Homo sapiens: one gene and its partners. The protein of the gene in region 1 purifies or fractionates together with the protein of each later gene. This does not show direct contact. Each region holds a gene or a part of one and is shown in the gene's direction. Other genes may lie near its edges.

Region 1 (4,387 bases):
GTGTGAGGGGTGCGTGCTTGTCGTGGTCTTGGCAGGAGTCTGGATCCCTGTCCGAGGCAGGACTTGAGAGGAGCGTGGGATGGTACCCGGCCCATCCTGCCTTCCTTCCCTGGCCATCATGCCCTGCCACCCTGGCCTGGGGCGGTAGCCAGGCTGTGCTTCTGGGTGCAGCGGCCGCCTTGCTTTAGCTACCTTTGTGAGTGCGGTCCAGAGCCAGCCTGCTTGTCCTCTGCTGGCTTTGCTCGTTGTGAAGCTCCAACCTGGATTGATTTCCAAGAACCAGGGTTGGTGTTGGGGTGTGTGGTCTCCCAGCAGCCGTGATGGTGCTGTCCCATTTTACAGATGTTTCTCAGGTCGGGGCTGTGGGCTGGCTCGGGTCCATCGTCGCTGGTTGTGGCAGGTTGGGCAGGAGCCCAGGGCTCCTCTGTGTCCCTGCAGAGCTGTGGCTTGGGCTGGGCAGGAGGTACGGGAAGTCATGCCTAGGGTCTGGAGCTGAATTGTAGAGGAGGAGCGTGAGGCCTGCTGGGAGGTACACAGTGTGGGGTGGGAGATGGGCCGGGGCAGGGCCACCTGCCTTAGGGAGTTCTGTCGGCTCTATGGACCTCAGCGTCTGTTAGGTGGTGTGCCTCAGCTGGCTCGAAGCCTGGCCCTAAACCTTGCTCCATGGGCGCTCGGTGGGTTGCTTTACATTTGGGAACGTGGTGGTTTGACTGGGTGAGGGTGGGACGGGGGATGCCCGGGAGGCCTGGACCCAGTGCTGTGGTCCTGCCGTCCCCGGTGACTGCTGGAGGCCAGCCTGCCCTCCAGGCCTCGGAAGGCCTTGCTCTGCTCCTCCACTCTGGCTTGGGCTGAGGCCCAGGAGGGGCCCGCCTAGCTCTCCCCAGCAGGGGAGCCTGTCCCTACCCGTGGCTCTGTGCCTGACAGCGCTCCCTGCCTTCTAACTTCCTCTCAGTGGCCCCTGTGCCCCCTCCCCCAGCAGACTGTGGAGTCTTCACCAATTAGCTCACGTGTCCTTGGGAGCCCCTGACTGGACAGACGAGGGGACAGTGCCATTTTATAGGTGAGGCCTTGGAGGCCTCAGTGCTATTGATGCGGCTGTGAGGCAGGAAGGGCGGCCTGTGCGACAGAGAGTGGCCATCACAGGTGCCTCCATGCCAGGGCCTGCCTGCGGGGTTGCCCCTTGGCCAGCAGCTGGGATTGTGGCTTTGAAACGATCCCTAAGAGAGGAGGTTGCTTTGTGTGCCAAGTCCCGCTGTGCCACCTGCCCCCACAGTTCATACAACCAGTCTGGTTTGCGGGAACCACCCATCTTCCAGCTGGGGGGTCTGGAGGCTTGGTAGGCAGAGGGTGCCCATGAGCCTGGCCCCAGTGAGAGCCCCGGGCCCGGAGTCTCAAGCAGAGTTGCTTTCCGAGCAGAAACACTGCATGTGCCAGCTGTGTTTTGTGGCTGGGACCCCTCTCAGGAGGGAGAGAGGATAGGGACTCCGGTGTGGATGCCCCCTTACCAATGGCTGTGATTCGCCACAGCCACGAGCACAGTGCCACTGAGTCCCGTGGGTGGCTATGGGCGGCCGTGGGCCCTGACACACAGCCTCTAGAGCAGGCTTCACGAAGGGTCCAACCTATCTCACCCTGGCAGCCTGGGCCCCTCTGCTCCTCCTGCCCCTCCTGCCTCTGCCCCGTAGCCTCACTGCTTGCACAGTGCATGGCAGAGTCGGCTGCGAGCAGGCGAGGTGGCCTGAGGGAGGTCACTAGGCTGGCTGAGGGCTTTTTGCTGTGGTTCTGAGCCGGCCTGCTTCCAGGCACCGTGTCCATGCGGGTGAGCGGTCTCCCTGGGTGCCCACTCTTGCGCCCGGAGATCCTGAGTTTGGTCCTGTCTGGCCATGAGCTCAGCCTGCTGGGAGGCCACAGGGAGATGCAGGCTGGGCGGCGGGTGGATGGTTCCAGCCGGTTGGGTCCGGGGCCTGGAGCTCAGCCTGTGGGGTGGGGACCCAGTGGTGCCCTGGAGCTGCCGCTTCTGCTCTTAGCAGGATGATGGGCAGGACAGGGAGAGGCTGACCTACTTCCAGAACCTGCCTGAGTCTCTGACTTCCCTCCTGGTGCTGCTGACCACGGCCAACAACCCCGATGGTGCGTGCAGGGCCAGGGAGGGACCGTGGGGGTCGGTGAGCCCAGCACTGGGGGGCCGGTTTGGGCTGCTGAGCCTTAGAACCCAGTGGGAGTTTCTGAGGCCTTTTTTTCGATAAGTGGAGAAGAAAGGGTGACATTTTCCTTCCTCCCCTTCTTTTCCTATCTCTTCTTTTTTTGTCTTGGTTTTCTTCTCCCTCTCTCTTGTCCCTTCTCTTTCCTTCTTTCCTTTTCTGTCTCATTCCTTTGCTTTCTCACTCCCTCCTCCCTTTTTCTTTTCATCTCCTCTTCCTCCTTGTCTACTCACTCCTCTGAGAAGCTGAAAGTGGCTGGTGTTCTTCATAGGGCGATGATGGCAGTGGTCAGAGGGGTCTCCTGGTGCCGTCCTGCTGGAGCTCCACACATCCACGCTGCGGTTGCTGCCGAGGTTCAGCTGTGGGAGCCACTGGGCAGCAGCATGTGAGGGCCAAGGGTCTTACTGGCCACGACGCTCACCCTGTGTGATGCTCATGGGGCCTCCACTGCTCAGGTGCAGGTGTGGCCAGGATGGAGGCCACGGTCCTGGGCTTGGCTGTGGCCCAGCCACCCTGGCTGGTGCCTTTCATCTTGCGGACCCTGAGTGCTGTCTCTTGTGTCCTCTGAGTCCTAGGAAGTGACCGCAGTGGGAGCAGGACCGTCTGAGTCCTAGGAAGTGACCGCACTGGGAGCAGGGCCGTCTGAGTCCTAGGAAGTGACCGCACTGGGAGCAGGACCGTCTGAGTCCTAGGAAGTGACCGCAGTGGGAGCAGGACCGTCTGAGTCCTAGGAAGTGACCGCACTGGGAGCAGGACCGTCTGAGTCCTAGGAAGTGACCGCAGTGGGAGCAGGACCGTCTGAGTCCTAGGAAGTGACCGCAGTGGGAGCAGGACCGTCTGAGTCCTAGGAAGTGACCGCACTGGGAGCAGGACCGTCTGAGTCCTAGGAAGTGACCGCAGTGGGAGCAGGACCGTCTGAGTCCTAGGAAGTGACCGCAGTGGGAGCAGGACCGTCTGAGTCCTAGGAAGTGACCGCAGTGGGAACAGGACCGTCTGAGTCCTAGGAAGTGACCGCAGTGGGAGCAGGACCGTCTGAGTCCTAGGAAGTGACCGCAGTGGGAGCAGGACCGTCTGAGTCCTAGGAAGTGACCACAGGGGGAGCAGGACCGTCTGAGTCCTAGGAAGTGACCGCAGTGGGAGCAGGACCGTCTGAGTCCTAGGAAGTGACCGCACTGGGAGCAGGACCGTCTGAGTCCTAGGAAGTGACCGCACTGGGAGCAGGACCGTCTGAGTCCTAGGAAGTGACCGCACTGGGAGCAGGACCGTCTGAGTCCTAGGAAGTTACCGCACTGGGAGCAGGACTGTCTGAGTCCTAGGAAGTGACCGCAGTGGGAGCAGGACTGTCTGAGTCCTAGGAAGTGACCGCAGTGGGAGCAGGACTGTCTGAGTCCTAGGAAGTGACCACAGGGGGAGCAGGACTATCTGAGTCCTAGGAAGTGACCGCAGTGGGAGCAGGACTGTCTGAGTCCTAGGAAGTGACCGCAGTGGGAGCAGGACTGTCTGAGTCCTAGCAAGTGACACAGGGGGAGCAGGACCGTCTGAGTCCTAGGAAGTGACCGCAGTGGGAGCAGGACCGTCTGAGTCCTAGGAAGTGACCGCACTGGGAGCAGGACCGTCTGAGTCCTAGGAAGTGACCGCAGTGGGAGCAGGACCATCTGAGTCCTAGGAAGTTACCGCAGTGGGAGCAGGGCCGTCTGAGTCCTAGGAAGTGACCGCAGTGGGAGCAGGACCGTCTGAGTCCTAGGAAGTGACCGCAGTGGGAGCAGGACCGTCTGAGTCCTAGGAAGTGACCGCACTGGGAGCAGGACCGTCTGAGTCCTAGGAAGTTACCGCAGTGGGAGCAGGACCGTCTGAGTCCTAGGAAGTGACCGCACTGGGAGCAGGACCGTCTGAGTCCTAGGAAGTGACCGCACTGGGAGCAGGACCGTCTGAGTCCTAGGAAGTGACCGCAGTGGGAGCAGGACCGTCTGAGTCCTAGGAAGTGACCGCAGTGGGAGCAGGACCGTCTGAGTCCTAGGAAGTGACCGCACTGGGAGCAGGACCGTCTGAGTCCTAGGAAGTGACCGCACTGGGAGCAGGACCGTCTGAGTCCTAGGAAGTGACCGCACTGGGAGCAGGACCGTCTGAGTCCTAGGAAGTGACTGCAGGGGGAGCAGGACTGACTGTGGGGAGGGCTGCAGGGAGGT
Region 2 (4,387 bases), on another chromosome or scaffold:
CACCAAGCGTTTCCCAGTCTTAGCCCTGTGTCCTGAGTTACGTACGATCTTTCTGGCAAATGGGGTGCATGATAAGAGCATCTCTTACGAAGAGTTGGAAAAACAAATGCCATATATAAATTCTAAGCCATATGAGGACGAGGAGTAATGGCATTTTCTTCCTTTTTCCTCTCACTCCCAGACATTCATTGTCCCTGAATGCTCCATTAATCCAGGGAAGGTAATTGCCTAAATCTCCAGTGGATCTCGCAACAGGAAGGAACCAGAAGCTGGGAAAGTTGTTTACCTCTTTGTCCCAGAGTTAGACCTCATCCTCCCCTAGCTTAGCTGTCTCAGAGATATACTGGCCCTCCCTTCTCTTCTCTTTGCTGCTGGTGCTAAAACTGCTCTGTAGGTCATTGGCCACTGTCTCCACTCACAACCCCTGCTCCAGTCCTGGAGGGAGTGGGTTAAACACAAATAGAACATTCCATTTGAAGCAGTGATTCTTTTTTTTTTTTTTTTTTTTTAATCAAATGCTTTGGACTTTTGAAGTCCACTTGTTCTGTACTTGTAAAAGGGAAAGAAGGCCGGGCGCAGTGGCTCACGCCTGTAATCCCAGCACTTTAGATCACTTGAGGTCAGGAGTTTGAGACCAGCCCGGCCAACATGGTGAAACCCCATCTCTACTAAAAATACAAAAATTAGCTGTGCATAGTGGTTGGCACCTGTAGTCCCAGCTACTCAGGAGGCTGAGGCAAGCTAACTGCTTGAACCCAGAAGGCAGAGGTTGCAGTGAGCTGAGATCACGCCACTGCACTCCAGCCTGGGTGACAGAGTGAGTGAGACTCTGCGTTAAAAAAAAAAAAAAAAAAAAAAACTAAAAGGGAAAGGTAATAAATCTCACTTAACATCTCCCTTCGCTCCCTGGGCCTGCCTGAAAGTTACACGGGAGCAACGTGCGTGGCCACATCTCAGCTTTGCCCAACTGACTGGTGTGTCGTTGGTTTGTTCCAGCATTCGGGGATTAATAGCTCGGATGCGGAGGTGCTGACCCTGTTCAATGTGACAGAGGCCCAGAGCGGGGAGTATGTGTGTAAGGTTTCCAATTATATTGGTGAAGCTAACCAGTCTGCGTGGCTCACTGTCACCAGACCTGTGGCAAAAGGTAATGGGGAGATGGATGGGACCCTGTGCTGGGGATTTGATGTAGGCCCCAAGCTGCTGGGGCAGGCGGGGAAGCCAGTACTGGACTGTCCTTGCCACCCTACTGTATTTCTAGTGCCCAGAGCCATGGAAAAATACCCGGCCTGGGAGGCTGGTTTGGTTTGGTATTGTGTTGGTGTCTGTGGGTTCCCTCTCTGCCTTCTGTGTGTTCCTTGGCTTTGTGTGGATCCATGTGAGGACTCACGGGGACACGGTTTTGCTGTGTTACAAATGGTACTTCAGACTGAAGTTGTGAGTGAGTGGTGATTAAGAGAAGGGGCCATAGGCCAGGCACAGTGGCTCACGCCTGTCATCCCAGCACTTTGGGAGGCTGAGGTGGGAGGATCGCTTGAAGCCAGGAGTTTGAGACCAGCCTGGGCAACATAGCAAGACCCCATCTCTACAAATTAAATAAATTAGCCAAGTATGGTGGCGTGTGCCTGTAGTCCCAGCTAGTCTGAAGGCTGAGGCAGGAGGATTGCCTGAGCTTAGGTCGAGGCTGCAGTGAGCTATGTTTATGCCACTGCACCCCAGCCTGGGTTGACAGAATGGTACCCCATCTCTTAAAAAAGAGAGAGAAGGGGTTAGGCATTCCCTTGCATACTCGCATCTGCTGGCTGTGTATGCACATGTGCGTGTGTGTATGCGTGTGCATGTGTGTGTCTGCAGCCCCCGCCATCCCTCCTGTGTTCACCTTCTGGCTATCTTTACCTGAAACCAAACAGCCCCTGCCCGCCGGCCCCATTTCTCCATGCCGCTCACCGCCCGCATGCTCGGATGGGCCAGTGGCTGCCAGCATCTGGTGAAGGGTCGTAACCAGCCATCGTCTTCTCAGGTCTGCCGGAGTTCTTCCCTCAGGGTCTCACCCTCTTCCTCTAACAGGTTTTGCTGCCTGGTGGTTTTCGTTTGTTCCTTGTTGCAAAGAAGATGTCAGGGAGCATTTCTTCCTCTAGTCCCCCTTCTTTCTGTCTCCTTCCCTTGCTCTGCGTCTCTTAGAGGTCTCATGTCCTGTGCTTGTCCATTTTGCTTCCGTTGTCTCTTCTAGACTGCTGGAGTTAATACCACCGACAAAGAGATGGAGGTGCTTCACTTAAGAAATGTCTCCTTTGAGGACGCAGGGGAGTATACGTGCTTGGCGGGTAACTCTATCGGACTCTCCCATCACTCTGCATGGTTGACCGTTCTGGAAGGTACACACTGTAACTTCTCCTCTCGATGTCCTGCCCTCGCCACGGGCACGGGGGGAGCATGCATTTCCAGGCTTGGGGAGACACAGAGGCAGGAGAGCTGGAAGAATGGGCTCCTGCCTGCCTGGTGCCACATCCTGCCCCAGCTTTGAGGGCTGAATCCTCTCAGCTCAGAGAAGAGCTTCCCTAGTTTTGCAGGCGCACGGAGGCCTCCCACCCGTACACCTGCCTCTGCTCTCCCCCTGGCCATTGCAATGCATGCCCGGGATCTGGGTTTACCCTGCAGCCCGACTCCTCCAGGGCAGGCTCCTTCCGTCCTTGGGTCCAGCAGCCTCCCCCCTCCGCTGGGTACTGAGCATCTGAAAAGTCTCAGATAGGGCCCTACACCTCTTCTCCCTTCTCAAGTGCTCAGCCCAGGGGTGGGGCTTGCTGCTTGCAAAGAGCAGCCCACCCTCCTGTACTGCCATCCTATTGCCTTTGAAGAAGGAGGTCAGCCTGGACAGGTGAACTGAGTTGCCTTCAGAAAGGCCTGTCTCAGGCAGCCGCAGCAGGCTTCACGATGTCCATGTATCCTGTTTGCCTGCTGCCGTCTCTCCTCTCCCAAGAGGGGAGGTCTGCGTGTTGAGCCAGGGAGGAAGGAGCCTGCAGCCTGCTCAGGGTGGTGGCTGGTGACTGCGGGGCCAGGGCTTGCTGCTGTCTCTCGGAATGTCCTGCATGTGGGTCTGGCTGTTCCTGCTGGCACTGCCCTCTTCTCTCTCCCCTCCTTTCCCACTCTGCCCTGCTTGCCCGTCAGGGTCTCCGGATGCCCCTGCTGGAGGCAGAGAAGCGTTCTGTTTTTATCATCGTCCCTGTCTTGGTCCTGTCCGTGCTCCCCATGTGCTCCCAATCAGTTGTCTTCGTTCCTCAACATCAGGGAAAGAAAAAACAGCAACACTTCTCCCTGTCATCAGCTCTGCTGTCTCCTTGTCAGGCCTTGGGACGTTCTCTGGGCTCAGTCTAGGGTCGTGCCTCATGCCTCATGCCTCTCTGGGAAGGTTCCCAGGGGCGCCGCCTCCATGGTTGGCTGGTGGGTTTTAAAGGGGAAGGTTGGGAGGAGGCCTGTGGAAGGAGGAGGGCCGTCCACACCCGTGGGGCAAAGCGTGTTCCATGAAACCAGTGCTGTGCGTGCTGGGATGAAAGCCTCCCAGCCTCTCGTGCTGAAGGGAAAGGTGGACCGAACTGGCTTAGCTGCTGTGGCAATGGGGTGGGGGGTGAGTCCTAATCAGAAGGTGGGAGAAGAGAATAACAAAATGGAACTCCGCCCCCTGCCGCCACATTTCCTTAAGTTTTAGGAGTTGGGGCCTATGAGTAGAATTTGAAAGAACTACCAAAAAAGCTTATTTTTGGAAATTAAGTCAGCTTTGCCTGTGGTTTGGCTAGGAATAAATATTTACCTGTGTGCCCCTACAGAGATGACACAGACCCAAAGTGGGACATTGAGCAAGGCACAGGCTGGTTCCCCTCCTGTCCTCTGTCCTCATTCTGTGAGTGCCACCATCACCAGGTACTGTGGCCTGCAGAAATAAACGAGGCACCAACCCTGCCCTCAGGGACCCCGTGTCTTCTTAGGGACAGAGGACTCAGAAACATCTGTGTCCCCGCATGTTAAGTGCATGCACACAGTGCTGAGGCTTTGCAGAGAAGGGCCATGGCTCCCTGAGGAGACCAAGAAAGGCACATAGAAGTGACTTCTCAGCTGGCCCTTGCAGGATCCCTGGGTGCCTGTACCTCTCCAGTCCAGCTGAGCAAGGAGGCTCAGGAATTAATGAAGATGGGGCTTGTGTAGCACGATGGTTCTAGGCCATCCCTTTTCCATGGCTCAAGTCCATTGAAGGCAGCCTCCAAAATCAGGGGGTTGCCTGATCCTCCTAGTGCCACAATCCCAGTCCTAGCTAGAACTTGCCATGGTTCTTCTCCCTAAAAGTTCCCAGGGGACAGGAGACAGGTGTTGCTTTTCTAATGGAGCGGGACCTCGC
Region 3 (4,387 bases), on another chromosome or scaffold:
GTATATACCTTGGAGTGGAATTGCTTGATGTTAATATAAATCTGTGTTGCTGTTTTTGTTTGAGACAGGATCTCACTCTGTTGCTCAGACTGAGCAACAGACTAGACTGGACTCACTGCAGCCTTGAACTCCTTGGCTAAAGTGATCCTCCTGTCTCAGCGTCTTGAGTAGCTGGATCACAGGTGTGCCGCCATGCCTGGCTAATTTTTAAATTTTTAGTAGAGACAGGATCTTGCTGTGTTGCCCAGGCTGGTCTCAGACTCCTGGCCTCAAGTGATCCTCCTGCCTCAGCCTCCCAAAGTGCTGGGATTGCAGGCTGAGCCACTGTGTTTTCAGCCTATGTTTAACTTATTTTGAGGAACTGCCAAACTTTTCCACAGCAGCTGTACCATTTTACATTCCCACCAGCAGTGTATTAGAGTTCCCGTTTCTCCACATACTCAGCACTTGTTATTGTCTGTCTTTTTTATTATAGCCATCCTAGTAAGCATGAAGTGGTATTGAGTCTTGGTTTTGATTTGCGTTTTCCTGCTGACTTAATGATGTTGAGCATTTTGTGTCTACTGGCCTTTTGTATATCTTCTTTGGAGAAATGTCTGTTCAAATCATTTGCCCATTTTATAATTGGGTTGCCTTTTTATTGTTTAGTCTCTCTTATCTTGTCAGAATTATTTAAAATATCTTCCCCTAATTAATAACAATTAGATAGAGAATTTTTCTTGAATGTAAATAATTTGGTGATGTTAGAATAACAGAGTTTATATTTACAATATATAAAGTAAATGTACAGGCCACACAAACTTAATGATTATTTCTGAACAGCAGTAAAATAGCATACTCAGCTGTTTACCAAAAGAAATGTGCTTGTTTACTTTTTGTAATTATACTGCCTTGTTTTGGTAGGATTTAGGGACTATGCAGAAGTAGTGGGTTGGTAATGAGAGCTTTAAAAATTGCATTTTAAGGTAAAAGTTTTAGCAATTAACTCTAAGATAGAAGTAGTAAATAACATTCAAAACTAGAGTTCAAGCATTGACCCAGAATTTTCTGATATTTATTTTTAATAACTTAAAGAAGGGACTTGAAACTTACAAGAATTTTCTTGCTGTTTAAATATGACCAAACCAAGAAAAAATTAAGTAGTGAAAATACTTGCAACTTTATGGACTTACTGGATACTTCAGCATTATTTTTCACGTGCTTTGTTTGTTTGTTTGTATGAATTCTGAGGTGTATGTTGATACCTTTTCTCATATATAAGGATTTATGGGTTTTGTTTAGTGTAGGGTTTTTTGTTGTTCTCTCATTCTTAGTAAATATAGATAATCCAAGAATGACTTTTAAGTGCCTTTAGGTCCTGCCATTTGCTACAGTTATAAATGTTGCCCCTTGCTTAGCCCTAATCCTAGCCCCAGCTCTGCTATTGCTTAAAAACAACTCATTTTAGAACTGCTTAGTGAGGAGGGCGGTGGTGAAGCTTTCTTGCTGATTGGGAACTCAAATAATAGTTTAAATCTGTAGGGTATAATGTCTTAAACGTGTTAAATTCAAGTTTGTTTCTATTAGAATTAGAACTATATATGATTTCTGTGTTGGAGATTCATAAAAATGTCATATTTATTTTTAATAACAATAGGACCTAGATACAGAGGAAGGTGATAAGGAGGGAAAAAAAAACGCTCTATTTTATTTTATTTATTTATTTATTTTTGAGACAGAATCTCACTTTGTCGCCCAGGCTGAAGTGCAGTGGCTTGATCTCAGCTTACTGTAACCTCCACCTCCCCGGATCAAGTGATTCTCGTGCCTAAGCCTCCCGAGTAGTTGGGACTACAGGTGCATGCCACCACACCTGGTTGATTTTTGTATTTTTAGTAGAGACGAGATTTTACCATGTTGGCCAGGCTGGTCTCAAACTCCTGACCTCAAGTGATCCGCCCACCTCAGCCTCCCAAAGTGCTGGGATTACAGGTGTGACTTGAGAACAAAACCTTAGTAGCACCTATTTGTAAATAAATGTTTTCTTAAAATTGAAGGTCATCAAGGCCAAAGGCACCATGGCAGATTGTGACATATCTGAAGTAGGAAGAGTTTTAGGGTTCTTCTGGGGAGCCATTCTAGTCTGCTCAGCACATAGAAGGGAGCAAAGGTAATCAGGAAAAGAGTAATGGCACACTCTGGGTGTGAGAAAGTGAAAGGTCATCTGAATTCTCAGGTGATTGGATTATTTATTTCTTAGCGATGGAGGCATAGGTAGTTATAGGTAGTTCTGTATTAAACTCTACTTTGTATGGCCTGTGTAGGTAATTGTATAGCTGTATTTGGAAAAAATGCCATTTAAATCATATTTCAGCCGGGTATGGTGGCTCACGCCTATAATCCCAGCGCTTTGGGAGGCTGAGGCAGGCGGATCACTTGAGGTCAGGAGTTTGGTACCAACCTGGCCAACATGGCACAACCCCATCTCTACTAAAAATACAAAAATTAGCCAGGTATGGTGGTGCATGCCTGTAATCCCAACTACTTGGGAGGCTGAGGCGGAAGAATCACTTGAACCCAGGAGGCAGAGGTTGCAGTGAGCCAAGATGGTACCACTGCACTCCAGCCTGGGTGACAGAGTGAGATTCTGTCTCAAAAAAATAAATCATATTTGAAGTTTAGTAAAATTGGTCAGAAATTATATGACAGGAAAAAAAATCCAGTGTCCAACAGCTATTTATTATCTATCACAGTCACTCAAAGGATATCCCCCCTACCCTTGCCCAACATCTCTGTGCACTGAGAGCAGAAGTTCCCAGATCTGTCCCAGTTTTCAGATCTGTCTCTCTGAGTATCCCCTACAACCCAGATTCTGTGACAGTTAAATTGGACTCGGGCTTCCACTGACCCAGTTGATGGAAGAGACTGAGCATCTTTCCAACTCTAACCCAAACGTGACAATGCCGCGTATTCTTTCAGAAAGTGTCAGGAAAGAGCCCGAAGATCCCTGAGCTCCAGGGACATGGCAGGGAGGCTGCACAGAAGGGTTCCCAGGGGTGGAAAAGGGGAATCTTAAAAATAAATTTTGGAACCAAGTAATCAATTTTATAGCACACTCTAGTTCTAGCGCACATGGTTCCTCCACTTGTTAGTGAATGCCTGACTTGTTGCCCCTGAAGTGTAAAAAGATGTATATTTAAGGATTCCATTGTTCAGCAAGTTATTATGCATGCAGATGGCAGGCACTAAGTGCTTACTCTTTTTGAAGGTGATTGCCTCTCCCCGCGATCCCCCTACATTGCAGTGTTTTGTTTTAAACAGCTTTCTTGATGGAGCCTAATCTTATCACCAGCATTATAGAAATAAGCCAGAGTGAGAAGCCTGTACAGTGAGGTCTTGGGATTATACCATAGTCATAATGGTGTTTTAAATTGTTTTTATTTTTCAATTGAAAAAAGTACACTATTCTAAAGTAGTGAATTTTAGTGGAGCAAACTCTTCACCTGGAAGTGTTTTTTTCCTTACCAAAGTGAAAATTGGTGGTTCTAAGAAGGCTGGAATTTATTTGCACTGTCATCTTTTACTATGGTGGGGGATGATCAAATTTAACATTTCCAAGTTTCCAGGAGACAGGCAGCCTATCTTATAAATATTGTCATAGAAGACCTCTTAACCTCTTTGTTCTTTGGATTTCTGTATTTCTTAGAATTGTCATGCTTCCTTTCTGAGACCTAAATTATGCAGGGGTAACGTGATTACTTTGACACCAAGCTCAGGAAATATAAAACGGGTTAAGTATAAACCAAGCTAGGTTTAAATGAAGTTCATTACTGGCTACAGTATATTAAGGGAACATATTCGAAAAGTCTGTATTTGCCTTTGTTCTTGCTGCTGACTCTTCTGCTTCTTTTGGTGACCTTCCCACAGCACAAGAGTGGTTAGGTGTGAGGAGGCTAAGAATACCTTGCCAAGAGCTTCAAATAATGTTAAAACCAGTATTTTAGGTGAACCATGGTCCCAAGAACTCTATTTAAGTAATTCCTAGTTCGGTGTCCCAGGAGCATTTGGCTTTACTGCACCTATTTTGGCCACATGTCTTTGTTTAAAAGGAAAAATTATCTTAGGTTATAATACAGCTATTTTGGGAGTACCTTAAGTTTAACATTAGATTACTAGGATTCGAAAAAATGTACCCAGATGGTAGATGCTGATGAGAATTTGACACAAGAATTCATTTGAAATTGAAGCTTTTGTAGTATTAGTCAGAAAAATTTATTGACATCTGGTTTTGAACAGCATAGTGAGTGGAGATTGAGATGATCAGTTAAAATTTAATGGATTGTGGCCGGGCACAATGGCTCACGCCTGTAATTCCAGCACTTTGGGAGGCTAAGGCAGGCATATCACC
Region 4 (2,186 bases), on another chromosome or scaffold:
TTAATTTTTTTCTTTTTTTTTTTTGGTGGGAGCAGATCAGTGATTTTTTCAGTTCATACCAGACCACAGCATTTTCCCACAGCAGCCTTGATGTGTTCATCTCCTCTTTTAGAGACAGGGTCTTGCCCTGTCACACAGACTGGGGTTCAGTGGCACAATCATAGATCAAACATTCCTCCTGCCTCAGCCTCTCAAGGAGATGGGGTAACAGGCGGGTGCCACCATGTCCAGTGCATGTGTGTGTGTGTGTGTGTGTGCGTATGTATGTATAATATAATATATGTGTGTACATTTATATATGTATGTGTGTATATATATATTTAGAGATATTTGTGTATGTGTATATGTAGTTAGAGAGAGAGAGATATTTAGAGATGGGGTCTTGCTGTATTGTCCAGGCTGGTCTTGAATTCTTAAACTCCTGAGCTCAAGCAATCCTCCTGCCTCGGCCTCTCAAAGTGCTGGGATTACAGGCATGAGCCACTGTGCCCAGCCAAGATTTTTTTTCACCTAGAAATAAAAGTCAGTATTATATTTTTTTGCATATACAGTTTTGACTTGTAAAATGGAATCACCTCAATTGTGCTACTTTAAATATTAAGCATAGTTTTTACCTTAACTAAACTTTCAATAAGCTTGACCTTCTTTAACCCTTAAAGAATTCAAAATTGCCAGTCTTGGTATTCTATATAATGTATTTTCTGTCTTTCACTTTTTTAATATGATGGAAAATGTTGACTAGTGTATATTGGAGTGTCTTTTTATTTTTGGAGTCTAAACTGATTATTGGTGAGAATAAACTCCCCAATGTTAGGATCATTATTGCCTTCCTAATGGCTTCAACAGTCACATATAAATATCAGGGAGAAAGGGTGAGAATGCATAGAATGAAATTCTTAATTACTCTTAGTGAAAAACCTTTTGAATTTAATGGCTCCTTTTTATGTTGCATAGAATGTCTTGCTATTCTTAAAAGGCATGTGAATGAAACATAATAGTAATAGCTCTGCCATATTTTCACTAATACGTATGCTTCATTGGTGTAATCACTGTTTATCTTGCACTAGCCTGTTGCTTTTTATGATCATTTAAGTTAAAGTGATACAGTCAACTTTGTGATATTTTAGTGCTTTTAAAATAAAAAGAGTGTTTCCCTCATCTGCAGGTGCTGCTGTTTTTTCAAACGAAGGAAAAGGAAAACCATACAGCGCCACAAATGACTCTGGACACAGACAGATCCTGGGGAGTTACTTACATGTTCATCTGCTGTCTTGTGATTAAAATCATCTCTGTAGTGACCACGTATATTTTCAAGGACTCACTCTTAGAAACAAAAATGTCATACTTTCATACTTCATTTTGTGGTTGTCTTACATTCTTTTTCTTTTTTTTTTTTTCTCTAATTTAACCTTTATGGAAGCTTTAAAGTTTTGTCAAAACATGAGTGCTTTGCCCATCAGTGAATGGAATGGACCAATGAGGTGGTATCAATGAATATAGTTCCATAGAACATTTTCCAGAAGTTCTTCTGTTGTAGAAAGCAGTACAGTATCTTAAGTGTCAACCAGTTATATACCTAATCTGGTTTTTTATAACTTCTGTAAGAGCATAATCAAACAGGAATTTTCTTTTCTCAGTGGATAATACAACAGAGAAAACAGAGTTGCCCAAATATTTAAAAGAAGTTATTCCTTGAGAAGTTCATATTTTGTGACATCTGCATTGATTTCAGTATTACTGATGGTACTGTTATTCATAAGTCATATTAACATTCTCTCCGTGAAATCATGGTACAGTCACTGCCCAGAGGTACTGAGGAAAAAGCAATATGGGTTCGGCAGATGGTGGTGGTAAAATGAATCTTAAGGAGTGTGGTAAATATGTGCTCCGCTTTTGTTGCATCACTATGTGAAGTACTGTGTTGCAGAAGTGGCAAAAGCGCTTATTTTTAAAAATGCAAAATATTTGTACAATGTAACTTTATGCTTCCAAATAATAATGTATGTTAGACAGCAAGAAATGAATACTTTAAAAAGTGATGTATGTTGGAGTTATAAAGAAATACACTAAGGAGAGGTAGTAAATGTGAACCTTGTTGCAGTGTATAAGGTGGAAGCCTAAAGAAATCTCACCGAAACTTACTGCTGAATGATTACATTCTCCCTTAAGCAGAAAACTTTGGATGT
Region 5 (4,387 bases), on another chromosome or scaffold:
AAACTTTGTTTCAAAAAAGATTTAAGACAGCTTAAAAGTGAATGAAGGCAGCCAAGGGGAAGTTACTTGCCCAAAGCCATACAGATAGTCCAGTAACTCCTGGTCCAGGGGCCCTAATTACCCTAAATGTTGATGTTTTTCATCCTGAGTCTTGATTTTAACAGTTTGCCTAGTACTTTTAATGACAAAGTAAAAGTAAAATAAAACTGTCTTATGCATGCCAGCTATTATTATATTATCATTTACCATGTCTTGTGTAATATTAATAACTTAATATTCTACTACTTAATATTTCAAAAACTTAGAAACACTGACATTTCTACCCATCCTATACAATATTATTAGCATTTGGATTTTGGTACATAGTAGAGATCTAAGTTTTGGATGCCAACCCATGTTGGTCACTTCAGGGAATAGTTGTACATTTTTATTGTCAATTTTTATGTGTAAAGTACAAAATTAAATCTTTTATTAGGTCTGATATAAATGAAGTCTTTGACCCAAGTGAATGTTTACTTTTTTCAGTGCTGAATTCATAACTCTCAATGATTGCCTTCAGTTGGCATACCTGCCTTCAAAAAGGAATCACATGTTGTTGCTCTATCCTCGAGAGATTTTAATCCTTGACCTTGAGGTGAATCAGACGGTGGGTGTGATTGCAATAGAACGCACAGGAGTTCCATTTTTACAGGTATCTACAATTCATAAATTATATTCCCCAAAATTATTAAGAATGTTATATTAAAAGAAGGCCATAATCTTGCATAAGTCTTGTCTTCAGTTCTCCACTTTCTCTTTTCAATTTATCAAAAGACTAGCAACACTATTTTAGATTGTTTTTTTTGTCTGCACTTTTGATTGGTTTGATTTACCCTAGAAATTGTGACTGATCCTGAGATATTTATTGAACTATTTAAGTCACATGGGTAAAGACAAATTATTTTAGGATTATAAATGGATATTTTAAATGTACATTTAGTTTTAAAGTTTGGGATTTGTCTATTTTTTTTTCTTTTGCCCATATTATCTAAATATGAGTTTGAGTTTCACAGTATATACTTTATTAATCTATTGTGTTTTAAAAAATAAATATATCATCTATTTAAAGGTAATACCCTGCTTTCAGCGTGATGGTTTATTTTGTCTACATGAAAATGGTTGTATAACTTTACGTGTTCGAAGATCTTATAATAACATTTTTACCACTTCAAATGAGGAACCAGGTGAGTTTCTGTCTCACAATAATGTTATATTTTTCTTCAAAATTATTTTATAAAGCTTGATGTGGCAAATACCAGCCAAGGTATATAGTTAATGATACTCCTTGCTTTGAGGAAGTTTAAAATATGGTTATAATAAGAGGCATAAAAAGTATAAGCCCAAGATTAATCTCTTGATGTTAAAACAGTGCACCTCCTGTATACATCAAAGAGAGTAAAATTTTGTGTTTCTTGATCATATCCATGAGCCAAGTAGATATTATTTTTTGGAATTTTTTTTTTTTTTCAGTACAAGTCCAACCTTGTGTGCCTTTATTATTATACCCCCTTGACTTGTTGGCTGTAAGAACTTCCATTGTAAAGTGACAGAGGTTATTAAGTCTCAGTTGTCAAGTCAGTCTTATCTTGGAGAATGGAAATAATGTTTTTGTGAAATTATATACTGTGTAAAGATCAAAGTGATTTTCACATCTTTTGGAAAGTACAGTTATTTTCAGGCTTATAGACTACTACAAATTATGATGGAAATTTATTCATTAATTATATATCACTGTTGATCCTTTTTCAAAGTATCGTCTTTATTTTAAAATATTGAAAAAAGATATCTTGATTATAGTTGTTATTTTGGAAATTAAACTTAGTACAGTCATTAAGTAAATTATATTTGGAAAAAATTTAGTAGTAATTGTAAAAAGTGAAGCCATGCTTGACATTGCATTCATGAAGGAGTGATGCCCAAATTTAGTTGAGGTTTTATTTAAATTGAAACAAACAGTAGTGGTATCGATATGGCTGCTTTCTGATATTTAAAACAATTTTATGTGAAGATCCAGATCCAGTTCAGGAGCTTACCTATGATTTACGAAGCCAGTGTGATGCAATCAGGGTGACAAAAACCGTCCGTCCCTTCAGTATGGTGTGCTGTCCTGTCAATGAGAATGCAGCCGCCCTCGTAGTGAGTGATGGCAGGGTCATGATATGGGAACTCAAGTCTGCAGTTTGTAATCGAAATTCACGGAACAGGTAAATGAATCAACAGGATCATGGTTTTGTTTTTTGTTTCCTGTTTCCTTTTATAAAAAATTTCCATAATCATAAAAATAGGAGGGCTGGTTTTCTATAAAAATATTTTTAAGGTAATAATTAAGGCTTTAGATTATTAGGGAATTATGTAAATCTGCTAGAGCTATTTCACCTATGGGTAAGATGAATGAATAATATAAAAATAGATAGAATGCCATAATCTGGACTTAATACTTTGAATTCCTAATACGTAATGCAGATTTTAAGTATGTAAAACCTTCTAATTATTATGTCTTTGCAGTAGTTCTGGTGTGTCACCTTTATATTCACCAGTGTCTTTCTGTGGAATTCCTGTAGGAGTGCTACAGAATAAACTCCCAGACCTTTCCTTAGATAACATGATTGGTAAGCTTTTTTCCCCTCTAACTCCATGTTAAGTATTCTTTCTGAAGGGCAAAATTAATAGAATCACTCACTTGTAATTATTTTAAAGTCAAAAAAGTTAATACTTGAGAAAACTAGAACATGGAATCATTCTTTCCTAAATAAATCAGAGGGGTTTAAAATACTTAGGTAGAAAAGTGCCTGAAGTAGCACGGGTTTGCATTATAGTTGTTAGAAATAGAAAACGTTCATTCGTGAGAGACTGATGTAAATGAAAGCAATGACATTAGGCATCTGGATTTTGGACCTAGAGCCGATGCTGAGCTATGCCATGCCAACTCAGGGCCTTGCTGTTTGCTGGTTCCTCAGCTTGGAATGAAGTACATGCTTCCTTTCTGTCTGCTACTCCTAATTCAAAATTCAACTCAGATGTTGTTTTCTTTAATCTCCCAAGTCTAATTTAAATGCTCTTCTTTTGTTTTTCCTAACAGTTATCAGCATATTTTAATTGTGGGTTTTTTTCTTCTGTTTCATCTCATCAATTGTAAGCATCACAAGGGTGGTACAGTGTTTGATTCTATTTTGTCTTTCCCAGCACTCAGCACAGTACCTTGTGCATGCCTGTTTTGTAGTAAATATTTACTGAAGGAATAAAGTAACTGAGCAGTATTAGAAAAGATTATTTTAACTTTTTGACATGAATTATTTTTATGTTGGGGATTCTTTCAAAAAATCATTTTTGGAGATAAAGTGTTCAAAGTTATTTAATTATGAGGCCAGTATGTATTAAAGGAAGAATGAGAGTTTGTGATTTCAAATTTTATGCTACTTGAAATTATAAGGCTTTGTAAATATGCCAAGCAATTTGGACATCTAATTTTTTTACAGTTGTGGCTATGGTTTATAAAGGATTTTCTGTTTTATTATTTATTCTACCATAATATAATTGAAAACGATATTATTTAGGAGGGTTTTTTTGTTGTTGTTGAAACGCTAAATAAGTGATGCACTAGAAAGAGCATTGGCCAGGCGCAGTGACTCACGCCTGTAATCCCAACACTTTTGGAGGCCGAGGCGGGAGGATCACTTGAGGTCAGGAGTTCGAGACCAGCCTGGCCAACATAGTGAAACCCTGTCTCTACTAAAAATATAAGAATTAGCCAGGTGCAGTGGCATGTGCTTGTGGTCCCAGCTACTTAGGGGGCTGAGGCAGGAGAATCGCTTGAACCTGGGAGGCGGTGGAGGTTGCAGTGAGCCGAGATTGCACCACTGCACTCCAACCTGGGCAACAGAGCGAGACTCGATCTCAAAAACAAAAAAAAAGCATTACATTATTAATTACATTAATTAGATCACATTTATTGGGTACTTCATACTGTGTTAAGTGCTGTGCTAAATATTCTACATATTACCTTGGTACAGCTTTGCAATGTAAGTAATATTATCTCCATTTGATACATATGAGAACTGAGGCCCAGAGAGATTAAAACTTTAAACCACACAGTCACACAGTCACACAATGGAAGAGCCCAAGTGTGACCCGGGTAATCCTGGCTCCAGAGCCTGCTCCTTAGCAATGGCCTCCAGTCCTGACAGCTCCACTGTCATCTTGGGTAAGACCATCATTCATCTCTAGGCCTCAGTTTTTTCACGATTTCTGCCAGTTATGAAATCCTTTTGTTCAGTGATACTTACTATTATATCTAAAATTATTTCTCTCCACTATCTATTCTACCAGACATAAATCCATATGAGGAAGC
Region 6 (4,387 bases), on another chromosome or scaffold:
TGAACCTGTGTCTTCCTAATCTGTTATAGGATGGATTATGTTTTCTACCAGTCTACAGAGGTTCCTTGTAGATAATACATAAGTTCTTGTATTTAAAGCATAAAGTATTATACAAATATAGGATTTTTTTTTCAGGTTCAGACACTTTTATGATATATCCATGGGGGAAAAAAACAATATGATGGGTTAAATTTTAAAAAGGAAGAAAAAATTCTATGGAGCAAGATATCAGATTGAAATCGGAGTGAGGCCAAAATTTACTCTAGCTTCCTGAGGGCTAGACAAGGAAGTTTTAACCTTAACCCAAGGATTCTAAACTCTGGCTACACATTAGAATTGTCTGAATATTTTAAAAATATTTATGTCTGAGCTTCAATTTAACTGATGTGAGGTGGGACTCAGTCATTGACATTTTTAAAAATCTCCCCAGGTGATTCTAATATACAGTCAGGGTGAGACTCACTGCTGGGCCAGAGAAATTTAGGAAATGTTTCTTAGGAGAAAAACTATATGATACATGAAACCTTTTAAAAAGATTAATCAGCATGAATAGATATGTGGAGAGGCTAGGGATAGGAATTGAATAATTAAAATGTCTATGGACATCACAGATGAAAATAACTGTTTTAAGGTCTATGCTTTTTTTTTTCTTGAATGCCAAAAAAGCTGCTGTGAAGCCTTTGTTGCTAACAGTGAATTTGTTCAGACAAAAAACTTAGGAACATTCAAATAATTAACATTACAAGGGAACATTTTACAAATTACACATGAAAGTTACTTAGAAACAGAGGTTAAAATGGCAATCACCATTTGTTGAATGACGCATGAAAAGAGTTGCTAGAGGAGGTAAGTTTTGAATAGAGTTAAAATTAAATTGTAGAGAGAGAACAGATATAAAATATTTTTTCATGCTAAAAGGCTTATAGTGATGGATATATGGATTTAAAGTCATGCCTTCTTAGTTGTCACATAGCTATTTATTTTAAACAAATAAAAATAAATGAGATAATTTATATCTTCAAAATGTAATGACAGTGCTTTAACATATATTTAAATATATAAAATGATGGTCTTGAAATGAAAATAGAGTGAACACAATATATTAAAATTCTAAAACACATTTGCTTTTAAAAATGTCTAACAGTAATTTTCTAACAGATTTTACTTTGAGATAGTAAAGGTAGCATTTCATTGATGAATAGGAAACATGGCATACTAGTTTTGAAAAGAATAGTCTCTTTGCTTGTAATGTAATGAAATCGATGCATATATTATAGTTTTATTTAAGAAGAAAAGGTATATATCAATGATGAACCTTTTCTGGGGGCACAACAATATCTTTTTATCAAAGTAGAAACCTTAAAACCTACAAAGTTATGTTTAATAAATGGCCAGACAGCAATACTTACAAATATTGCTTGCCTTGAGTCTAATAAAAGATTTAGAAAAGAAGTAAGAAAACAGGAAGTGGAAAATGTCTTATTTTCACATGAAAAAGTTGTGTGAGGAATATGGAAAACTGTCATTTTAATATGTTCACAGAGAAAGGCCAAGCCATAATGTAATATCTTATGTTCTATAATTCATGTCAATTTCCAGGTAAATTATTTTAGATAACCTGTTTTTTAAAAATGCTTTCTATTTAGTAGAAAAATAAGTCAACTAGTATTTTAAGACACTACACTTCTGTTTTTTTCAGTTTTATCTATTTCAAATGTATCACTTATAAAGGTAGTTCATGTGGTAGCTAAGGATATGGGGAATGGTTCCCAAAAGGCTGGGCAACAGCACAGCTTTGTTGGGGGAGGAATTATGCTTCAGTCTCCTCTTCCTTAAGTGGAGGTAGTTAATAATATCCATGTCACAGGCTAATATGTGTATAATATATATCAAACTCTTAAATAATATCTCACCCAAATAGCACCGTATAACTTTTAGCTACCAAAGTCATAAATGTAATAAATAAATATTGCCTAAAAAAGGTAAAAGTAAAATTACTAAATTTTATATTTCTTTAGTTTTAGTAAAAGTGTTTTAACAATTTGTTTATCCTGGGACAATTAAAAAATCTTTATGGTAAAGACTCAATCTTAATGCATGTATCTCTGGGTGTGGACCCTTGTTAGCTCAAGTGGTATTCCTTTATTAGGCTCATAGCAAACAGCCATGTCTCTCAATGGACACTCTAAATGTGGAGTAGTTTGTCACAATTATTTGGTAATCTCTTTCAGTGTAACTCACACAGCAAAAGTGACAATATTCCTGTCACTCCTCAGAAATGTCCCAGCTCCACGGGTTTCCACATTCAGGAGAATGAAGAAAGCCATTACGAGGTATGCCATATATCTATAGAGAACATGTTAGTACTGATAAATTTTCATTTTCCTCATGATTTTAAATACTCTATCTTAATTAGTATTATTGTCTTTGCCCATCTCTTCTGTGGTCACATTTTTATACTAATGTTTTTGAAAATAATTTTAAGTAAATAATTTTAGAACAAAAATCCAGCGATATATATCTTTTTTTTTCTGTTGAGTAATGATCCAACTCTCAAACATAATGTTAGTAACATGGAATGAAAAGTACTGATTTTTACCTATTTTTAAAGAAAGTAATAAGCAACTTTCTTTTAAAGCTAGATGTTCTGGATTGATTCATATTTATTAATTGAACTAAAAGAAAGGCACAACTATTTTGAAAGGTTAATTCGATTCATCTCCCATACTGAGGAAAATGAGAAAGACATTGCTGCTTAATATGACTAGTTAAATTTGAATTTTAATGAAGTTTTCCTTTTTTTTTACTACTTTATATCAGTTTGATCTTTTATTTCCCTGTATTTTTGAACTTGAAAGACATTACTTTCTTTTTTAAAAAAGTTAGTTCATCCACATTAAAAGGTAGAAGATCCATAGTTGTTCTTTTCTTATTCTTTTATGTTGGAAGGGTTTTTCCAGTGCCAATTATTCCAGTATGGCTGGGTATAGAAATCTACTATCTTTCATGTATTTTTTTTTAAGTCATGGTAAAAAAACACATAACATACAACTTACTATCTGAGCCGTTTTTAAGTGTAGAGTTCAGTCGTGTTAACTATTTTTGCATTGTTGTGAAATGGAAGAAGATTCCCATTTTTAAAGAATTATGTTTTAATAGTTAACTAATATTAAAACATACATACTGTTTCACGTATTTTTTTACAGCTGTAACATATAGACTGTAGAAAGAGAGGTAATGCATGTGTATGCGTATGTGTGTGTGCCTGTGTGTGTATTCTGTTTTCTTACAGAACGTAGGTCCCCTCCATTCCCTTCAAACCTTTTCTTAATCATGATTAGTAAAAAAAAAATTGTAATAATTATTGCTTTTGCCATCTAAAGGAATCTATTATTTTCAAAAATCCCACTGGTAATGTATATTGAAGAAACTACTTTGATTAATATAAACTTAATATAGAAAGCAACTTCTTTTTAGATAAAACATTAGTGGAAGTTGAAAGAGGATTGAGCAATATTTCGAACAGCTCTATCCCCTAATTCTCTGCATATTTTTATTCTATTTCTTTTTCTTTGTGTGGGTCTAAATACTTAGAAATGATTTTCTAAACTTCAGCATATATACTTTTTTATATTTTTCTTTCTTTTTTTATCCAAAGCCTAAATCTCTTGAACATTGAGAGAAGAACCATAGTTTCCAACCCTTTGATTTTTTCCTCTTCACTGTGTATGTTTCAACTATCTAAGATAATACAATTGTTCCCATTAATTACCAACAATAACACAATAGTTCTAATTGGATGGCAGAGAAAAATTTTTTCTCATAAGTAAAGATTAAGGTAAATAGTACAAAACCCTACCCAGGATGTTGTGCAAGTCATTAAGATCCAAGTGGATTTCAGATTTCTAAGAATTATATTTATTTTTATAACATTTTATGTTTGTGTTTATTGACTTAACCATACTCCTCAGAAACCATATTCCTCAGAAAATCCCTTTGATTACCAAAGGTGGTGAGATGATTTATTGGAGATTTTCGTATTTTTCGTAGAGAATATAAATGAGACATAATTCAAATAATTTTCTATAAATCATACTTTTTTCTCCCTTAGATATTTTATAAGGTCCGAAGCACAGGAAGACAGCTTGCACAGGGTTTGACTAAAGGTCTAGGGAATTTGAAGAAAAAAAATGACATCTAGAGTTATGATGTTTATTTATATTATTAGTCCATTTGTGAAAGAACAGTGAAAGTAAATCTACTATAGTTTATTTATAAACAAAGAAGACAAAATATTTTTATAAATCTTTCATTCCGTAAATTCTCATTTAACCATCATTCTCCAGGCCCATTTTCTCTGAATGGTTTTGAACTAGGTTGTCTGGAA
Region 7 (4,387 bases), on another chromosome or scaffold:
AGATTATTGTTACATATAAAGATTACATGTTACAAAGATTATATGTTACATTATAAACTAATGGTGTGGCCGAGCACAGTGGCTCACGCCTGTAATCCCATCACTTTGGGAGGCCGAGGTGGCTGGAGCACCAGAGGTCAGGAGTTTGAGACCAGCCTGGCCAACGTGGTGAAACCCTGTCTCTACTAAAAATACAAAAATTAGCTGGGCATGGCGGTGGGAGCCTGTAGTCCCAGCTACTCAGAAGGCTGAGGCAGGAGAATTGCTTGAACCCAGAGGCAGAGGTTGCAGTGAGCCAAGATAGTGCCACTATACTCCAGCCTGGGCAACAGAGCCAGACTCCATCTTTAAAAAAAAAAAAAACAAAAAACAAAACGTATTCATGTAACCAAACACCACCTGTTCCCCAAAAACCTATTGAAATTTTAAAAAAGAGAAAGATAACGCTTATGAAGTACACATTGTCTTTCTGTCATACTGCCACCTAAGTTATAAATATTTATGAACAACTATAGTAGGCCAGATATTTGTGATATGTTATATAACTACAAAGAAGTTGTTTTTTTAATTGTTACTCATTTTTATCTCTGTATTTGTTTCAAGTTTACTAACCAAATAACAAAAACATTTCCTCCTCCTTACACAGAACTACCTTACTCTTCTGGATGATGAGGATCATAAATTGGAATATTTGAAAATCCAGGATGAACAACACCTGGTAATTGAAGGTACAAGATGGAAGCATGCATCTATATTAAATTTTCAAGGGGAAGAATTTAAAGAGTTACTAATAACCCATTTTATAATTTTCTCCAAAACAACTATTATTTGATTATTATGTTTTTATGATAAAGAAACCCTTTGGAAAAAAAAGAAAAAGAAAACCCTTTGAACTCTTATGTAATCCTACCATACAATTTAGATTGCTTTAAAGGGAAAATATTCTGTTTTTAGTCATTGACTGACAAAGAATGGGAATGGTAGATAAAAAACAAGTGAATTCAGTTTACACATTTATAGTTCCTTAAAATTTTCAAGTTGCTGCTTTGAGTTTGAGTAAAAAGAACAACTTTCTTGCATAGTTAGTAGCACAGGCTTTCATTAGTCACCAACATTGGCTACTCACTGACAGAGCTATTTGTATATTCATAGATTTACACACTGGCATGCACATGCCATTAAAAACTTTTTAAGTGTATCTTTTCCCATCAAGTTTTGTGGCAACATTGTTAGCTGCCTTTGTATTAAAATGAATAGGCCGGGCGCAGTGGCTCACGCCTGTAATCCCAGCACTTTGGGAGGCTGAGATGGGTGGATCACTTGAGGTCAGGAGTTCCAGACCAGCCTGGACAACATGGTGAAATCTGTCTCTGCTAAAAATACAAAAATTAGCTGGGTGTGGTGGCACGTGCCTGTAGTCCCAGCTACTCAGGAAGCTGAGGCACGAGAATCAGTCAAGCCCAGGAGGCGGAGGTTGCAGTGACTCAAGATCACATCACTGCACTCCAACCTGGGGGGACAAAGCCAGACTGTCTCAAAAAAAAAAAAAGGAATAAATTACTCTGACAGTTGTTACAATTTAAGAAAGAATTGTAATTTCTAATGTTTTAAGTATAAGAAATTCCATTGTTTCTGAACTTTAATTACTTCTGTAGATGGTTGAGTATAATTTTACTTCAAGTAGGTAATTGAGGGATAAGATTATTCAAACCAAGTGACTTTAAAGTCCTCAATATGAAGAGTAGGAATGGTTTTAGAGCCAATTACAGGCATGTGCTGCAAAAAGATGTTTGTCAACAAAAGACCTGTATACAGCAGTGGTCCCATAAGATTATAATACTGTATTTTTAGTTGTGCCTTTTCTATGTTCTAACATGTTTAGATACACAAATACTTACCATTGTGTTACACTTGCCTACAGTATTCAATGCAGTAACATACTGTACAGGTTTGTAGCCAAGGAGCGACAGCCTATACCATACATAGCCTAGGTTTGTGTAGGTACACTCTGTGATGTTCACACAAAGACAAAATCACCTAATGATGCATTTCTCAGAATATAACCTCGTCGTTAAGCAATGTATGTACTAAAATTAACTAGATTTTAAAACTTCTGATTTAGGAATAAGATGTCTTTAAAAAAAAAAAGCAATCGAATGGGTATAAATTAGATAGATAAGAAATTAACACATTCCTATCTGTCCTTCCAGTTCGCAACAAAGATATGAGTTGGCCTGAGGAGATGTCTTTTATAGCAAATAGTAGTAAAATAGATAGACACAAGGGTAAGTCTCCAGTATTATTTTTTAAAGAGATTATTTTAAATGTATTCTTTTTTTTTCTTCTCTCAACTGTTAAAGTGCTAACAACTTTTGGTTTTCTAGTTCAAAAGTAATTAGGGCCTTCTTCTTTTTCTTTTTTCCTGAAGCAGCATTTGATGTTGGCAAACCCACCATCAAATTATTTTCTAAATTTCTTTCTAACTCTGCAATTAAATAATTTATATGTTTTAAAAGACATACTAGAAGAAGAATTGTTTGAATTATTTTGAAAAATCATAGCAATTAAAAAGAATAATTGCTGCTTCTGGGTTACAAATGAGCATGGATCATCACTGTTGCCAGACACTCCATGAAAAGCCTTCTCTAGCATTTCAGAGACCTGCTAGAGAATTATTAGCACCATTTAGCTGATTATGAGAGTTATAAAAAACCTTTTCATTGAATATAAGTAACTGTTTGTGCCATGGCATATTACTACAGCTAAGCTTTGGTTCTCATATTGTTTGTTCCAGTTCCCACAGAAAAGGGAGCCACAGGTCTAAGCAATCTGGGAAACACATGCTTCATGAACTCAAGCATCCAGTGTGTTAGTAACACACAGCCACTGACACAGTATTTTATCTCAGGGAGACATCTTTATGAACTCAACAGGTAATCTTTCTGGAGTCACTGGCCTCTTAACCTGTGACTTTGATATAAACCCAATATCACCTAAATTTCCTCTTTTTTCACCCTGTGGGAGAAAGATTTTATCTTATTTGCCCTATTTAATATGAAATAGGCCAAGGAATACATCTCTTGTTTCAAAAAGAAAAGATATTTTGATGTGAGATGCTAGGCATTTTTGCGCCCACATGATTGTGATTTATGAGAATCTTTGGCAACAAATTTTCCTCTCAAACTTCTAGGACAAATCCCATTGGTATGAAGGGGCATATGGCTAAATGCTATGGTGATTTAGTGCAGGAACTTTGGAGTGGAACTCAGAAGAATGTTGCCCCATTAAAGCTTCGGGTAAGCAGGTTAAAATAATATAAAAGTATTTAATTCCTAATAGTTGTTTAATCATTTTTCTCTGCTTGTTTTTTGTGTTTAGCCTTTTAACTTAATAAATGTTTTTGGATCCTTCACTTGGTATAAACAAAAGGTCAAATTCTTTTGCTTGTTTAAATATATGCAAAATTACTACTGTATATGTAGTGGGTAGGATAAAGACCAAAGGTACACTCTAAATTCGGGATGTCATTCATTTTACTAATTTGTCAAACATCTTATATGAAGAGTAAACCTTTTTTGGTAATACTTCACTATTAGCAGTATTCTAACTGCAAGGTGGACCTCAGAGTCTTATTAATTACATCCAATCCAATCCATTTTCAACGTAACTAAGATAGTTCTATCTGTAGAATACAAAGAAGTAGGCTGGGCGCAGGGGCTCACGCCTGTAATCTCAGCACTTTGGGAGGCCGAGGTGGGTGGATCACTTGAGGCCAGGAGTTCAAGACCAGCCTGGACAAGATGGCGAAACCCTGTCTCTACTAAAAAAAATTAGCCGGGCATAGTGGTGCATGCTTGTAATCCCAGCTACTTGGGAGGCTGAGGCACGAGAAACGCTTGAACCTGGGAGGTGGTGTTTGCAATGAGCCAAGATCGCACCACTGTACTCCAGCCTGGGCAACAGAGTAAGACTCTGTCTCCAAAAAGAAAAAAAAAAAGTAGAAGGATGAATGAATGAAACTAATGAATATAAGTTTTATATTAATATCAGATGTAGTAGATTTTAGTGAAGTTAGGATTATTCATTATTTTTATTTAAATACAAAGCAAAAGCTTTTTATATTACAAATTATTAACTATAACAGCTACACATTTGACTACTTACCTCTTGCCAGGCACTATTCTAATTAATTTATATCCTCAAAATAATTCTATAATATAATGCAGTTAATAAAATTTAGGATGCAACAAGACCAGAAAATGTAATTGTTGAAGACAACATTATATTATATAAAATAATGTATACACATATTATTTTATACATGTTATGTATTATTATATACACATTATTTTATGCATATGTTATGTATATACTATGTACCTATAAA

What was found.
Region 2: the proteins of TPCN2 (region 1) and FGFR1 purify together in Homo sapiens (affinity purification with mass spectrometry; 2 studies listed by BioGRID and IntAct, with this or other methods). This does not show direct contact.
Region 3: the proteins of TPCN2 (region 1) and NDFIP1 purify together in Homo sapiens (affinity purification with mass spectrometry; 2 studies listed by BioGRID and IntAct, with this or other methods). This does not show direct contact.
Region 4: the proteins of TPCN2 (region 1) and CSNK1G3 purify together in Homo sapiens (affinity purification with mass spectrometry; 2 studies listed by BioGRID and IntAct, with this or other methods). This does not show direct contact.
Region 5: the proteins of TPCN2 (region 1) and WDR11 purify together in Homo sapiens (affinity purification with mass spectrometry; 2 studies listed by BioGRID and IntAct, with this or other methods). This does not show direct contact.
Region 6: the proteins of TPCN2 (region 1) and PCDH9 purify together in Homo sapiens (affinity purification with mass spectrometry; 2 studies listed by BioGRID and IntAct, with this or other methods). This does not show direct contact.
Region 7: the proteins of TPCN2 (region 1) and USP32 purify together in Homo sapiens (affinity purification with mass spectrometry; 2 studies listed by BioGRID and IntAct, with this or other methods). This does not show direct contact.

The regions. Positions count from the first base shown.
Region 1 is NC_000011.10:69,065,476-69,069,862, forward strand, and holds part of TPCN2 (two pore channel protein 2), read left to right. Parts: intron 1-2,027; coding exon 2,028-2,130; intron 2,131-4,387. UniProt on the Homo sapiens protein: Intracellular channel initially characterized as a non-selective Ca(2+)-permeable channel activated by NAADP (nicotinic acid adenine dinucleotide phosphate), it is also a highly-selective Na(+) channel activated directly by PI(3,5)P2 (phosphatidylinositol 3,5-bisphosphate).
Region 2 is NC_000008.11:38,419,785-38,424,171, reverse strand, and holds part of FGFR1 (fibroblast growth factor receptor 1 isoform 1 precursor), read left to right. Parts: intron 1-2,230; coding exon 2,231-2,375; intron 2,376-4,387. UniProt on the Homo sapiens protein: Tyrosine-protein kinase that acts as a cell-surface receptor for fibroblast growth factors and plays an essential role in the regulation of embryonic development, cell proliferation, differentiation and migration.
Region 3 is NC_000005.10:142,125,323-142,129,709, forward strand, and holds part of NDFIP1 (NEDD4 family-interacting protein 1), read left to right. Parts: intron 1-4,387. UniProt on the Homo sapiens protein: Activates HECT domain-containing E3 ubiquitin-protein ligases, including NEDD4 and ITCH, and consequently modulates the stability of their targets. As a result, controls many cellular processes.
Region 4 is NC_000005.10:123,613,177-123,615,362, forward strand, and holds part of CSNK1G3 (casein kinase I isoform gamma-3), read left to right. Parts: intron 1-1,165; coding exon 1,166-1,220; 3' UTR 1,221-2,186. UniProt on the Homo sapiens protein: Serine/threonine-protein kinase. Casein kinases are operationally defined by their preferential utilization of acidic proteins such as caseins as substrates. It can phosphorylate a large number of proteins. Participates in Wnt signaling.
Region 5 is NC_000010.11:120,864,522-120,868,908, forward strand, and holds part of WDR11 (WD repeat-containing protein 11), read left to right. Parts: intron 1-525; coding exon 526-691; intron 692-1,108; coding exon 1,109-1,223; intron 1,224-2,047; coding exon 2,048-2,243; intron 2,244-2,544; coding exon 2,545-2,648; intron 2,649-4,387. UniProt on the Homo sapiens protein: Involved in the Hedgehog (Hh) signaling pathway, is essential for normal ciliogenesis.
Region 6 is NC_000013.11:66,901,450-66,905,836, reverse strand, and holds part of PCDH9 (protocadherin-9 isoform 1 precursor), read left to right. Parts: intron 1-2,231; coding exon 2,232-2,333; intron 2,334-4,387.
Region 7 is NC_000017.11:60,209,922-60,214,308, reverse strand, and holds part of USP32 (ubiquitin carboxyl-terminal hydrolase 32), read left to right. Parts: intron 1-646; coding exon 647-728; intron 729-2,210; coding exon 2,211-2,285; intron 2,286-2,794; coding exon 2,795-2,933; intron 2,934-3,190; coding exon 3,191-3,296; intron 3,297-4,387. UniProt on the Homo sapiens protein: Deubiquitinase that can remove conjugated ubiquitin from target proteins, such as RAB7A and LAMTOR1.